3 linked regions of the Homo sapiens genome follow. The protein of the gene in region 3 purifies or fractionates together with the protein of the main gene of each other region. This does not show direct contact. Each region holds a gene or a part of one and is shown on either strand. Other genes may lie near its edges.

Region 1 (5,100 bases), 1.8 Mb from region 3:
TCAAATACAGCAAATAAATACTAAAGTTAATTTGCAATGTGATTATTACTAATTGATTCCCCATTCCATGGAATACTGCTTAATAAATGTTTTTGGTGTAAAACCAGTTGAGCTCACTCCAATTCATATAGTTAATTCCTGTCTCAAATGAACTGTAAAATTATACGCTCTGTTTTCAAATGTACCATTCGGTTATAAAGAAGGTGATTTGGACTTTGATATGGCCCTAGTAAATATTGGCATAATCTTAGTGACTCTGATGAAATCACTTTCACATGAAGTGACCCCCCACAGTACTAAGTGTTTACAAATTTCACTAACAGAATTTTTGCTTTCTGCAATAGCATGTTTCACTTTTTATCTATATTGTGAAACATTCTGGTAAGTCTTGTTTAATTCTGAACTTTTGAAAGCCAGTGTGATTTATTTTCAGGAAATCTTTGCTGCTTCAGGCACCTTACCTCTGCCAACAGAGTTGACAATATTCATTCATACATGTAACAGATATTTTTTGAGGCTTACTTTGTGCCAGGCATTGGGTTCAATATTGAATTTGAACTTACAATGGAACCCAAAATAGACACATCCTTGCCCTCATGTAACTTTCGTTGTAATGGGGATAGCTAATAAGATACTGCTTTGTTACAAAGTTTATTAAAGTAGGTATTTGGATGCCTTCACTATTACTAGTCTTTCACTAAAACCTAATTTGGCTCCCTAGAACAGTTATTCGTATACCAAGTACATTAATGGATCCTAAATATCATTGACATAAATAAGTGCTCGTACAGGATGCTAGGAACTATCTCAAGTTGCTGTTTTCCTATTGTGTTCTGGAGAATCATGGGCTTTAACAGCTCTGTTGGGCATTTTATATTTTCACAATTTCATTTCTTTGGCATTTTTATTTCTATTCTGTACTGACAGACTCATCCATGTCAGAAAAGCTCAGTATATTTGTTAGTATTTTTTTAAATAAATTTACCTTTTAAGAATATGGTTTGCAGTGTTTATTCAAACTAGTCAGGCATGATATTGTTCATTTCACAGTAGTGAATTGACTTAAATAGTAAACATTATTGAGCTGGTTTAGGAAGCTGATCTGGTTATAAGAGATTTCTGTATCACTAAAAATATTGCCAATGAAAAAGTTTGAGCTTGAGTCAATGAAAAGAAATTCAACCCTTTTAATACTAAACCCAGAGACCCACATGACATCTATAGATAAACTAATCTAGAAGTTAACTGTACCTCTTAGGATGATATCAGTGCAACAAATTGAGCGTCCTTTCAGACTTTGAAAATTCAAACACAAACGAAAACAGCAAAAGATATATAGTCAATGGGTTAATTACTCAGAAACTGCAACTGCAATAGGAGACAGCATCACAGACTCACTCAAACTAATGTCCTTGGGTTCACCTCGGGTGGTAGCCTGTCCTTTGTGACACTTACCAAAGTTCCAGAGGAAGCATTTTTTCTCCATGCATTTCATCCCACCTCTCTTTCCTTTTGTGGGTTGGTTACCTCCTCATCTGTAATTGCTTTTGTAGGGGTAAAGATAGAGGGGGAGGTTTGCCTCTTCCACTTTTGGGATGGGTAAAGGTGATATCCCCTGCATTTAATTTGGACGCTTAGAACACATTGAAGCACTTAGATTCTACAGCAATATAAATATAAATAATAATAATATCATGATAACAATTAAAATTTGAGTGCCAACAATTTGGTGGTACTGTTCTAAATATTTGACATGTATTACTTGCTTTAATCTTCACAAAAATTTTATGAGGTTTGTGGTTATCACAGTTTACATCCCATGTTTACTACCTATTTTTATGCATCATTTTAAGAACTTCATCTCATATTTAAATTATTTCTATGAAAAATTGTACTTTAACTTCTAAATAACATATAACTTTTTGAGTACATTTTGTCCATGAGTTAGAGAATTACTCTATTGAAATTTAGTGATATTCTTTTTATGGTATCGAAAGATTCATTATTATTCATGCCTGTTTAAAAATCTTTATCTTTGACTATCAGTCCTGGAAAAAAGTCATTCTTATTCTTCATTTTCTTCCCCGGCCCTTTTTTTTTTTTTTTTTAAATGAAAAAGTTTGCAGGGTTTGGCACAGGAAAATAGAAAGGTGAGCAGATTGGTTGAAAGACTCAGGCGCTTTGGTCTTAGTAGTGACAGAGACTTGAAGTAATACTCACTAGACGTTTGCTAATAGATCTTATAAAGGCAGCATATACTAATATTGCCTTTAAGCAAAATTGTCTTTATTTTCCATGAAGGTTCTTTCAGGGCAAAGATCATGTCTAAATTTTTAGGTCCTGGATGCCTGGCACAATTCTGGACATTCCCATAAAAGTCACTTCATTAAGCAAGTATTATAAAATCTGAAGAAAGTATCATTCAACAAGGGCTGGCACAGTCATAGTTCCACATGGCACTCCTTTGATAAGGTGATATAAACAGTAAGTGGTGGTGATTCTGCCTCCCTGGCTAGCCATGTATGATCTATCTCAATTAAAACTTGAGAAAATATCAACTCAAAATGGATTAAAGGCTTAAATGTAAGACCTGAAGCTGTTAAACTAATACAAGAAAACATAGGGGAAAAGCTCCATGATGTTGGTCTAGGCAATGAGTTTTTTGGACATGACGCTGAAATTACAGGCAACAAAAGCAAAAAATAGACAAATGGGATTGCATCATACTAAAAGGCTACTGCACAGCAAAAGAAAAATTAACAAAGTGAAGAGACAACCCACAGACTGGGAGAAAATATTTGCAAACCACATATCTGATAACAGGTTAATATACAAAATATGTAAGGAACTCAAACAACTCAATAACAAGAAAACCAATAACCGATTTAAAACATTAGCAAAGAACCCAAACAGACATTTCTCAGAAGAAAACATACAAATGGCCAACAGGTTTATAAAAAATGTTCAGCATCAGGAATCATTAAGGAGATGCAAATTAAAACCACAATGAGATATCACCTCACACCTGTTAGAATGGCTATTGCCAGAAAGATTGAAAGATAAGCATTGGCAAAAATGTGGAGAAAAGGGAACTCTTTTCCACTGTTGGTGGAAATATACATTAGTACAGCCATTATGGAAAACAGTATGGATGTTTCTCAAGAAACTAAAAATAGAACTACCATATGATTTAACAATACCACTTCTGGGTATATATCCAAAGAAATATAAATTAACAGGTTGAAGGGATGTCTGCCCTCCCATGTTTACTGTAGCATTATTCACAGCTACCGAGATGCTGAAACAACCTAAGTGTCCATCAACAGATTAATGGATAAAGAAAATGTGATGTATTTACACAGTTGAATACTATTCAGCCTTAAAAAGAGAAGGAGGGGAATTCTGTCATTTGTGACAACATGGATGACCCTGGAGAACATTATGTTAAGTAAAATAAGCCAGGTACAGAAAGAAAAATACTGCATTATATCATATATGGAATCTGAAAAAGTTGAACTCACAGAAGAGTAAAATGATGGCTACTAGAGGCTGCAGGGAGAAGAGGAGGGAGGGAATGAGGAGCTGCTGGGAAAATAGTGCAAAATTTCAGTTAGACAGGAGGAATGTTTTGAGATCTATTTTGCGTCAGGGTGACTATAGTTAATCATGTATTTTATATTTCAAAATAACTTGAGTAAATTTCAAATGCCTCAGAAAAAATGATAAGCAGTGAGATGGTAGAGGAGTTCATTGATGATTTTATCATTCCCCATTATATATAGATATCAAACTATTCCATTGTGCCCCAGAAATGTATATAATTATAATTTGCCAATTAAAAAACAGTACATTTTAAACCAGAAAACACTGTACATGGGTGATTTTCTTTCACTGTTTCCTAACAAAATACACGTCTTAATGACTACTGAAGTTATACTGTATAAACCGAAATCAAATTATGCAATCTAATGGAGAGGATATATTGGATGTGTATCATTATTTATGTCTCTATCATCACACATGTTTTTGTCAAACAGATCCCCGAGCCATTTAAATGCATTTGAAGTCCAACAGATTGCATTATCTTGTATAGGAAAATTTCTATTTCAAAGATTAGTAATTTATCTTTTTAAAATTATAAAAAGTAGATATTTATATATTAATTTTTAGTATGGCCAAAAGAGTTTTATGGTGCTTGTCTGCTATAGTGATGTGTTAGCAAGAATTTTTTTTTCATGAATGGAATATAATTTTCTAATTTTCTTATTAAATCCCAGTAAGAAACTGAAGGCTTATTATTGGACAATTGTAAGAACTGTAATTTAAATGGGAAATTTCACTATCAAGTACTCAATGCTATTTTGTGTTAACCATTGTGATATACATTGCTTTAAGTGCTTTTATAGCACTTCATTTGTCTTAGTAAGGCTAAAGAGAGCCTTTTAAACAAATAAATTAATAATGAGCTTTGCAGTATCATGTAGATGGAAAATGGAATGCCAATGTTTTCTATAGGATATATACTAGATATTACATTCCAATTGCCACCAGGATATAATTCCTTAGATATATTTGCTAAGAAAACTTAAAAGGAACACTCACTTCAATGTTAGCCTAGTCAACAATCCAACCATGTATTTTGTTATTTATATTTTTTAAAATCTAGTATGCAATTGTCAAATAAAAGTATTTTCATTTTAAAACCAATTATTACCTAACATTTGCAGCAGAACTGATAATATCAAAATAACAAATTTACTTTCGTGTAGTAAAATTTGAAGACTGAAATGGTTATTCTAAGACTGTGCTCTTGCTATTGTATTTTTTAATAGATAAAAAAATCACAGTTATTTCCATATAAAAATATTTTCACTCATAAATGGGAGTCGAACAGTGAGAACACATGGACACAGGGAGGGGAACATCACACACTGGGGCCTGTCGGGGGTTGAGGGCTAGGGGAGGAATAGCATTAGGAGAAACACCTACTGTAGATGGTGGGTTGATGGGTGCAGCAAACCACCATGGAACATGTATACCTATGTAACAAACCTGCAGGTTCTGCACATGTATTCCAGAACTTAAAGTTTATATATATAT
Region 2 (4,016 bases), on a different chromosome or scaffold from region 3:
ACCTTGCCCATTCCCTCTGAATATTAGGTGTGATGTCAACAGCATGTTAGAAGGATCAATGGGAAGGCAATGATTGAAAACATTTCAATGAACCTTAATAGTGTTCCTTTGAGGAGCACCCAGGAGAATATCTGGTCATAGATCTTTTTTTAAATGCAGTTTTATAAAACCCTAACAGCGGTGATATCATTAGACTGTATGAATCAGTTTTATTACCTAGTGTACAAGTGTCAGTCATGTATCATTATATAGTCTGTTGATCTTTCCATTTGCAAAAAATTAATAGTTTTCCCCCACAAATGTACAAAGTTGTATGCTTCCAGTCTTCTTTTAATGTTTATAGTCATTCCAAAGTAACATTCTATTTTACACTTTCACATACATTGTTATGAATCATTGGTTTTTCTCTTTTTTCCACTTATCACCAATTTATTTCATTCAGCCAGATTTGGTGTCTATAGAAAAAGAAATTTTAAGACCATTATTAAAAATAATATATGGTTAGAAATTAGTAGATGGTTCTTTAAATGTATTCCAATTTTTAATGTTACTTTACTCCTGATTCATTTATATTTTTCTGCTTTTTATATGTTTAAAAATCTCTCATTCTATTGCTGCTTTATTTAAAGAAAGATTACTTTCTTCCCTACAAGATCTTTATTAATTGTAAAGGGAAAATGAATAACTTTACAATGGAGACACCTGGCAGACACCATCTTAACCAAAGCTTGAAGTTAACATAACCAGTAATAGAACTGATCAATATCTTGTGCCTCCTGATATGGTGTACTAAGAAAAACACAACATCATGCCATGATAGTCTTGCCAAAAGTGCATAACCTAAATCTAATCATAAGGAAACATTAGACAAACTCAAATTGAAGGACATTCTACAAAGTGCCCTTTATTAAGGAATTATTCAGAGTAAAGGAGACTTAAAAGACATGGCAACAATGCAGTACATGATCCGGGATTTTCTTTTTCTGTAAAGAACATGATTAGGATTATTAGCGAAATTTGAAGATCTCTAGTTTTTAAATCATTGTTGCTTTTCTAATTTCGATCATTGTATTGTGGTCATGTACAAGAATATTCTTGTTTTTAGGAAAGATAGTTGTATGTGTATCTATACACGTCTGTGTGTGTACATATAGAGGGTGAGCATGAGAGGGAGATAGGGAAAAGAATGAGAAAGCCAATGTGGCTACGCACATCATTAATATTTGGGGAATCTGGGTGAAAGGTATATGGGAATCTGAAATTATGTCAAAAAAGTTTCAAAAGTTTCTCTTCATTGAATTAATATGTTGTTATACATTCAGTAAGCAAACTATTGTATTGGATTTGGGTACTTAGCTAGAAATACAGAATATATAGTCCCTGCCTGTAAGAAATTTAAAGCTAAGCAGGCTTTTCTAAGACTCATAATTAATGTAAACTTGCTCAAAGCTTTATTGGACTTATTTAAAGATGATTCAGACTGATAAACATGGCCACTGATTTTATGGGCCAAAGATAGTTCAAACTATCTTTTTTTATTCAGTCTGCTGCTTTCAGTCTCATGCAATACCTTTTCTCTTTGCAAAAGTCAAATTTCTCTTTAATTTTTTATCTAGTGTTGATTTTTACTTCATATTTGCTATTTGTTCTGTAATTTTTACTATAGCTTTAAAAACTATCTCGCCTTTCTTAACCAAGCAGTAATCTCCCTCTTCTTTCACGGTTGTTACACAGGAGGAATCTTCTCTGTGGCTGTGTGTGTAGGGTTACCCTGTAGTGCCATACTCTGCATGCCAGGCATTTGCACACATGAATTCCCCAAATGCCTCCATGTTACTTACTCACCATTATTTTTTTGAGCAAGACCATCCTTTTGTGTGGTTTACATGCAACCACATGTAACCACATGGTTGCAAGTGTTATTTAAAGACTAAAGTTTTCTTTCTCATATTTGGCTCTCTTCACTTTGTTCAAGTTATTGGCGTTAAATTTAGTGGCTTGTCTGTTAGAGTCTTTGATATTCTAGTGTTATCAGTGACTGCTCTAATAAAAAGGGCATTAATGGAAATAGTTTTTCATGATGTAAGTTGTTTGTGTAAGACCCAGGAGCAGAAATTAAAACTTTCCATTTGCACTAAAGGTTAACCTTTCAGGGCTTTTTAAATCTTCAAATATATTTACATTTATATTTTCTTCATTTGTATGTTCCCTTTTTCCCCATTTTAGGGAGGAAAGACATAGATTGGTTTTCTTTACATAATTTCCTCCCTTTGAATTTACCATTTCTAATTACAACAATCCTCAACTCGAAAGACCCAGGAAAGACCAAAGCCTGCAGCCACAGTGCAGGAATCTTACCAAAAAAACTGTTCATTTTTCTCCATTTTAAGTGTGTGTGTGTGTGTGTGTGTGTGTACCTACACATGGGGAGGGTTATTGCAGGGGTTGGGGAGCAGTGCATTTAAATTTTGTTTCTTCCCTGGATCTTTCACAAACAATTATCGGTAAGGTTCCTCCTTCCCCTTGGAAGCACAGAAAAGACACTGCCTATTTGAAATTATATTATTTGGGGTTGTCTTGGGCTTCTCTTACATGGAGGTGCCACCTAGAAAAAAAATTGTTTTTTGTTAAGAAAGAAATTAGATTCTAAATGTGTCTTATGTAAATAATGGTTTGTTTCTTGGTAAATAACATGACTACTCCCTTATATCAGCTTTAAGTATAATTACACATTTGTATTAACTTAGAAATGACTGGTGCTGTTACAAGTACTGGCTGTCAGGAAATGAGCAGTATCCCTCACCATTTAGCAGGAAAAAAATCCTGTTTGGAGGTAGAGAAGGAAGAAATCAGGGCAGCAGATTCACAAATGCTTCATATTGATGCATCATATTGGGGGAAGTATTTAGGCAAAGTAGTTCCTTTAGTTATATCTTTTATATATGGCTTCTAGAATTACTACCTGGATATTCACCTTCATTTTGTAGAACGGTGTAAGTGGTTTCCATTCCAGCATGAATGTGGTCGGTCACATGGCAGTGGAGTAACCAAATTCCAGGTGTTCTTGGAAACATTTCTAGGGTTTGGTATGTTCCAGGGAAAATGTCAAAGACATCAGAACTATAAACTCCCCTGTGCTTAATTAGAAAAATGACAAATAATGTATAATATTGTATATGAGAGTTCACTCATGTCATTTGTTAATGTTCAGCTCAGGGATATTGAAAAAATGGATAAATCTGTTTTTAAAAAATCGAGCTCGTTTCTGTGTTTAATACAAATGGTAAAATGTGGTTTTTGTATTCCTAATAAGTCTTTGGTATCCACATCAAGTGGGTGTGAAAGAAAGATGTGATGAGAATGAATTCATCAATCAGGACTACCTACAAACCTCCTGTACCTTGATTCTGGTTTGCCTGTTTGTCATAGCACTTAAGCTACACAAAAGGAACTCAGCTGTGGCCCCATTTCAGCCCTAGCCTCACTTTTGCCTGAATCTGTCCTAGCTTGTCTGAAGCTTTAAGTCAAGGTAAATAATAAAGGAAGCAGAAAAGGAGGCTGATGAAAACGACAAAAACCAGAGGCACTTCAGGGAGTCTCGGCTGGAAACAGTAGTTGGGTGACAATAGTCTATTTCTGCAAGGATAGAATTGAAAGCCCACTAAGAATACAATATATCTATGTAAAACAAAATGCAGGTAACAAAACAGGCTTTCTGCAGTATGCTTTTTGATAACTTCTGCCTTTTCTAAATTAGCCCAAAGCATAAGGAAAAAGCATTTCCAGGAGGGCCACTGGCTTCTGCTGAAATCAGTACTGAGAAAGAATAGAAGTAAGATTGAGATGTACAGACCAGTTGCTTGTCACCTAACTGATCTTGCTCACCATGGGCCATTTAAGATACAGAACTTAGAACAGGCAGGGCAAGGGTTATAATAAAGTCTTGTTGTGGTCTCTACTCTCATCCATCATTATGTGAACATTCCTACCCTCTTTGTTAGCAATTCCGCTCAGTT
Region 3 (5,952 bases):
ATAGTATTCATTTGAAAGAACATCTTAGTTTCAAAAATTTCTCTGAGAATAAAGGAGAAAATGCAAAACAAAGAATAATGAAAAAATATCTTTGGAAAACATGACAGTCATCTTCACCTTTAAGACTTTGAGAATTAGAAATCTGATCAGATATAGATTAATTTATTAAAAGTGAGAGTAAGAAGTTTAAGACACTTATGCCTAATGAATTCAATTTTCCTTTCAAATACGTATGTTGTTGTTATTATTATTATCAATATTATTATTTTGAAATTGACTACTGAGTGAGATGAGTTGGTTCCTTCAGAAAACAAATATTGGGGCAATTTATTGTAGGTTAATGAGAGAGGTATTGCATCAAATACGTGGAAAAAACTTGGTGAGCAATGTTGTACTCCAAATTTAGAAAACAAAAAAATCACATTTTTTCTATATATCTAGGTTTTGATAAAGAAACATGATATAAAATTTAGGGATTTATAGGATTGAGATATTAGCAAGTAGAGTTACCCAAACCCAGAAGTTCACTGGAATTGTTTGAGTTATTGCAAGTATATAGTGAATGAAAAATATGAAGTACTGGCTTAGAGGAAAATAAAATAAATTTTAAAAGGAACACATAGAATAAAAGGACATAAAAATAGGAAGGACCCACAGATTTCTGTAAGGCCCAAGTGTGGATATCTATGATTCAACCCTTGATTCCATTCCAAAATATAAATAAGATTATGTCTTTCTCCAATGTCATCCATCTCAAATCAAAGACTTAACATGGGCCACAAAGCTTTAGTTACCTGCGTATCCCTTATGCTGTGACGTAATTTATTTTGATCCACTTGCCTTCTCTGTCCATATTGGTCTCCTTGAATTTGTCCCTAATGAAACAAACATGTTTCTATCACAATAAATTTGCATTTGCTATTTTCTGCTGGAAAATTTATTTCTCCATATTCGCTCTCATGCTTAGTTCATATCTTTCATAAAATGTCACTATGTCAGAGAGTCTCTTGTTGACTATCCTGTTTAAATTTGTTTCTGTGCCCTAGACATGCTTATACTTCTTTAGCACACTTATCATTGCCTAAGATATGTACTATTTATTTACTTTGTATCTGCATCTCCCAACTACAATGTAAACTCTCCAAAGACAGGACTTTTGTCTCTCTTTGTCTGCAGCATCTAGAAGAGGACCTGACAGCTGGGGTCATTCAATAAATATTTCTTGAATAAAAGTCATTGCTGAAAAACTAATGGAGGGCATTAGATGGTTTACATGCAGAGTGCCTACATACTGCTGTAGAGTGACATGGTGGTTATCTTCTGACCTACAGGGACTGAGATAAAAAATGTGAGTGCTTTGGAGGCTTAGCAACTGTGGTGTGGCAAAGGAAACCATGGGCAAATCAAATCTTGGCATAAATAGCTCTAATAATAAGTGAGTTTGAGTACCATGTTTGTAACATATAAAATATGACAGACTAAATTATAAATAAGGACCTCTGACATTATGGGCTTCAATCTGTGCTAGTCAAACTGGGAAAGAAGATGATGAAAGAAATCATTATTCCTATAAATAGAAAAGAGAAAAATAAGGAGCATACATGTAAAAATGTGCTTGAAATTTATTGCTTTTAGAGAAGTGATTTCTATTATTCAGAAACAGTACTGAACACAGCTTAACAGTTTAAATTGCAATTATATCATCAAGTGACAATTGAAAAGGCAAGTATCCTGAAACAAAGAGTATACAGTAAATTATAGTGTTTTTCATTTGCATTGCTCTTTGATGATTCTTCAAAAAGTGGTAGTAGTGTGATATGGTATGAAAGATGAGAATATGGATGTAGAAGTCGTATTTGCCAATCAAGCCTGCACAGAAAAAAAAAAATAACAGATTATCTGTAAAATTTTTACCCCTGTAAACACATTTATATTCTGGCCTGGTACAGAGTAGATATTATATACAATTATAGTTTATAAAATGCAGGGCCCAAAATAATATTTGACACAGAGTAGACAATTAAACAATTATTAAATTGGTTCCTGAATAAATAAAAATTATCATTCAGCATCTACAATTTAAATTATTTTTCAATCATCATACTATTTTATTCTTCTACTTAAATATAGCCTACACATTTCATTTATATGCATTTCCTCTAAATAATATTTCAATACATCTTTTCTTGATTAAATGTCATCAGCTATTACCTAAAACCTAGGGGATCAAGTTCAGGCTCTTCCCTGTATCACTAATGGCAATAGAGAATTGAATTGGAATATAATCTCCCAAATGCACTGAAAAATAATTGAAATCCTTTGGACTATTTTAACTTTGTAGAACAATCCTCCCTTATCTCCAAGAGTTTGCTCTATTTTGTTTTGAAATATTATTTTTTCATAGAATTTAGAACATTTAATGTTGTGTAGAGATAGGTAAAACTGACTTTCTAAAAAGAAATTGATAACATTTCCATATTTTCTTGTTAGCATTATGTTAATAATTTCTATAGTAATTGCTCAGTAGAGTTACTTAGGGTACAAAATGCAAATTTCTCACAAGTTCCCAGATGGTTCCCAGATGGAAGCTTCTCCAAAGATTGCATTTTGGGAGTGAAAACTTTAAGCAACACCTAGGTACAGATTTAGTGGCAGGGAAGCCCTGCAGTTATAACTACAAACCTTTCTGATCAAGAGATTTTATGTGATATGTCTTTCAAAAGTGTCACCAATTCTAAAAAGCACATTTAAGTGTTATCATAATACACAATTTTTTGACGAGAAAACTGAGGTTCAGGAGCATTAGGAGTAGTTCAAAGTCATGAAACTAGTAGTTGTCAGGGCCAGCATACAAACCCTGGTGTCCCCCACTCTATAACACTGCCTTCTAACCATAGCAGGACAGAGACTATCTCAGAAGCATTTATATAAATTAATACATTTCAAGGAGCTATACAGCTGGCTGCTTTCTTATACTGGAACTGCTGTTGGTTTAATGTCTTGTTTTTGTTTTTCTTCTTTTAACTGTCAGCACTGATACAGAAAGTAAAAAAAATGTCACTAAACCCATCTTACCTCAATAATCATGTCCTGCAGTTACTGATGATATTAAAAGGTATATTGTTGGTATTGTGGTTGGTATGGTTGTGGGTATAGTGGTTGTTCTGGAACTGGCTGATAAGGGCCATACCCATACTGTATACACACAAGGAGAAAGAAAATTGCAGAAAATTGAGATAATGACAGTGCAAGCGTTTTTATTAGAAGCTTAGATTGTTAAAGTTTTAGGAACTTACATATTACTTATAAGATTTTTTTCCAAACTTTCAATTAGATTTTTCTTTTTGGTTATAAACACATTTTAAAAGCAGGTAAAAATGATTGAGTGTTTACCTTTGTACTGCATGTTCACAGTTTTGTGGTTTTATTTCACATGCAGGAACACCGATTATAGGCTATCACTCCAAAGAGGTTTTAAATTTTCTTCAAAATACTACCTCCCAGCAACCATTTTGCCCACCTTTGAGTATTATGGGAAGGAGACATTTACTAAATTCAGCTTATGTGGTGTTTCTTCAAGTCACTCTTTTAATGAGCTTACTGTCTCTTACGATTCCTACATTCCTTAATACTTCTTCCTTCTGTTAACACAAATAACCATCATCCCTTTTAGAGTATCTTTTTATTTGGTGTTATTTTAATCCATGTATTCACTATATTAGTTAGGGGATCTTTTGCAACCCTATCACATTGACATTATATGTCAACATACTGGGACATCAAGATACATACATTAAGAAAAATGTTAAATAAATGAAATTTGCTATCTCATTTATCATGACCTGTTTAATTTAATGAGTTTATCACCGTCAAAAAAAATCAGAAGGTGCAAACTTACCATATTTTATGTGTAATTATCAGCCTTTATGCTCCATGAGGCATATATTATAATTAACAGAATTAGAATTTCAACTATTTTTTAGGTCAAAGTGATTACTTAGGAGATGATACTTGAGGGCTCAGGGAGTAACTGGTTTCTTCAGGTTGGCACTATGAGTTTCAACTTAAATGTTGTTAGGACACAATACATTTGTGACTGTTACCTGTGTATCATAAATAGAGGAAAACAAAGCACACTTTTGCAACTACTACACATATTTGAGAAATAAGTATTGGTTCTTCTAGAAGAATAAGTAATCAGAGAACACAATTTATTTGGACTACACAGCATTATCAGAGAACACTTACACCGAATCTTCCAATTCTACGCAAAAATTTCTGTGAAAAATGAAGAAAAGTTTAATAATTCAATACAAATGTAGGGAGGACAAAACTGAAAACAAGTTTTCCAGTGAATGAAAATGACTCACCTCTTCAGATGAATCAGCTCCCTTAGAAAACAGAAAATTAGACAATAGTTAGTATCTTAATGTTATAATTCCAGATTGAGTACAAAAATGAACTCAGCAGCTACAGTTGTGAGTAAACAGGATGTAGGCAAATCATCGATAGACACTAAATTAGTTATTTTTGCTTCATGACATCTTTAAAATGAGTTAAGAGTATGCTTTTCTGTAATTAGTGTGCTATATTCAAATATAAATTTATTTGGATTTATACTTGTTTTGTGTGTAAAAGGGAGTAAATGGTTATCATTGGTGAATGAAAAGTGAAACTTTGTATTTTTTCATAAGAATATGTTTTCAGCAGCTCAAAGGCTACTTACACATAACTTTTATTTACTGACAGAGACAAGCATTATGTTTTTCTCTGTTTTCCTTACATTTTTATTTTTTATTTTTTAGACACCTATCCTTTTATAACAAATAATGTGGTATACTGTGATTTTATAATCAAATTAGTTTTTGAAATATCTGTTAGAATTTACCAGGTAAGTTGAACTATTTTTATTCTTTCATGGCCAGTTTCCTACTAATGTCATAGAAAAGGGACAGGAGAAATAGAAGGAAGTAGAGTAGAAGAAAGAGCTCCAGAGAAGTCAAGTGCTTTACCTAGTGATACATAGTAGTAAATGACAATAAAAGCTGGGAACTCATAACATGTCATAGATCTGAAGTTTTGTTTTATAGTTAAAAATAAGCAGCTTTATTTTAGAAAGTGTGTGCTAAATAATTGTATACTAATTTTAAGTTAGTTTTTGCAAGGAATGACTTGAAAATTTCTACTTTGACATCTTCTAATACTTGAATTCCACTCAAGTGCACCTAGTTCATTCCTGAGATTTCTAACTTCAGATTGTCTAGAGCATTACATGTTTAAAGATACTTTTAGAAGCTCTCAGTTCCACATATTTAAGAAGTTCAGTAAAACTTTCTTTTATTTCACACTAAGCTAAATATACTTTAGTGTCTGTAGATGAATAATGACTATTTATTCTAAATCCTTATATAGCTTATGTAGGTTAGTACAAAAAAAAGTTCATATGGAAACATTTAAACATATAAAGCTGTATTCAAGTAAACACCAATATATGCCAGAACACAAGGAATAGAGAGACTCTTGGGATAGGTACTGAGAACATATTCTTCAAATGTCCTGATATACTTACAATCATGGAAACCATGAGAGCCAAGATGAAGGCAAAGACAAGGAACTTCATAGTTGGCTGGGTTCTCTGAAAACATATGTGGAAATTCAGTATCACATTTTTTCTTGCATTCGCCCATCAAAAGTTTATTGATTATACTACGCTCCAAAGCACTGGGAGACACACTCCAGATAGAAAGACAATTAAAACCCATTGCCTGACATCATGAAACTTGGAGACTTGTTGGAGACACTGATAAGTAAAAGTGAGTGTATTGATATGGAAATGCTAAGGCATTAGAGTAACACACAAATCAACACCTTACACAGACCAAGAGAATAGGGGTATGAAGGTAAAGAAGAAAGTAAAGCTTGAGTTGGATTATGCAGGATGAGTAAAGAGGT

The links. The genes of interacting proteins can lie anywhere in the genome.
Region 1: the proteins of STATH (region 3) and GC purify together in Homo sapiens (affinity purification with mass spectrometry, with the first as the bait; one large-scale study listed by BioGRID). This does not show direct contact.
Region 2: the proteins of STATH (region 3) and CP purify together in Homo sapiens (affinity purification with mass spectrometry, with the first as the bait; one large-scale study listed by BioGRID). This does not show direct contact.

What each region holds. Positions count from the first base shown.
Region 1 is NC_000004.12:71,772,942-71,778,041, forward strand, and holds part of GC (vitamin D-binding protein isoform 1 precursor), read right to left. Parts: intron 1-5,100. UniProt on the Homo sapiens protein: Involved in vitamin D transport and storage, scavenging of extracellular G-actin, enhancement of the chemotactic activity of C5 alpha for neutrophils in inflammation and macrophage activation.
Region 2 is NC_000003.12:149,173,276-149,177,291, forward strand, and holds part of CP (ceruloplasmin precursor), read right to left. Parts: intron 3,138-4,016; coding exon 2,975-3,137; coding exon of another isoform or gene 2,963-2,974; intron 2,606-2,962; coding exon of another isoform or gene 2,589-2,605; exon of another isoform or gene 456-2,588; coding exon 439-455; coding exon of another isoform or gene 435-438; 3' UTR 1-434. UniProt on the Homo sapiens protein: Multifunctional blue, copper-binding (6-7 atoms per molecule) glycoprotein. It has ferroxidase activity oxidizing Fe(2+) to Fe(3+) without releasing radical oxygen species. It is involved in iron transport across the cell membrane.
Region 3 is NC_000004.12:69,998,106-70,004,057, reverse strand, and holds the end of STATH (statherin isoform a precursor), read right to left. Parts: intron 5,636-5,952; 5' UTR 5,621-5,635; coding exon 5,570-5,620; intron 4,392-5,569; coding exon 4,371-4,391; intron 4,279-4,370; coding exon 4,249-4,278; intron 3,196-4,248; coding exon 3,109-3,195; 3' UTR 3,076-3,108; intron 1,870-3,075; 3' UTR 1,488-1,869; downstream 1-1,487. UniProt on the Homo sapiens protein: Salivary protein that stabilizes saliva supersaturated with calcium salts by inhibiting the precipitation of calcium phosphate salts. It also modulates hydroxyapatite crystal formation on the tooth surface.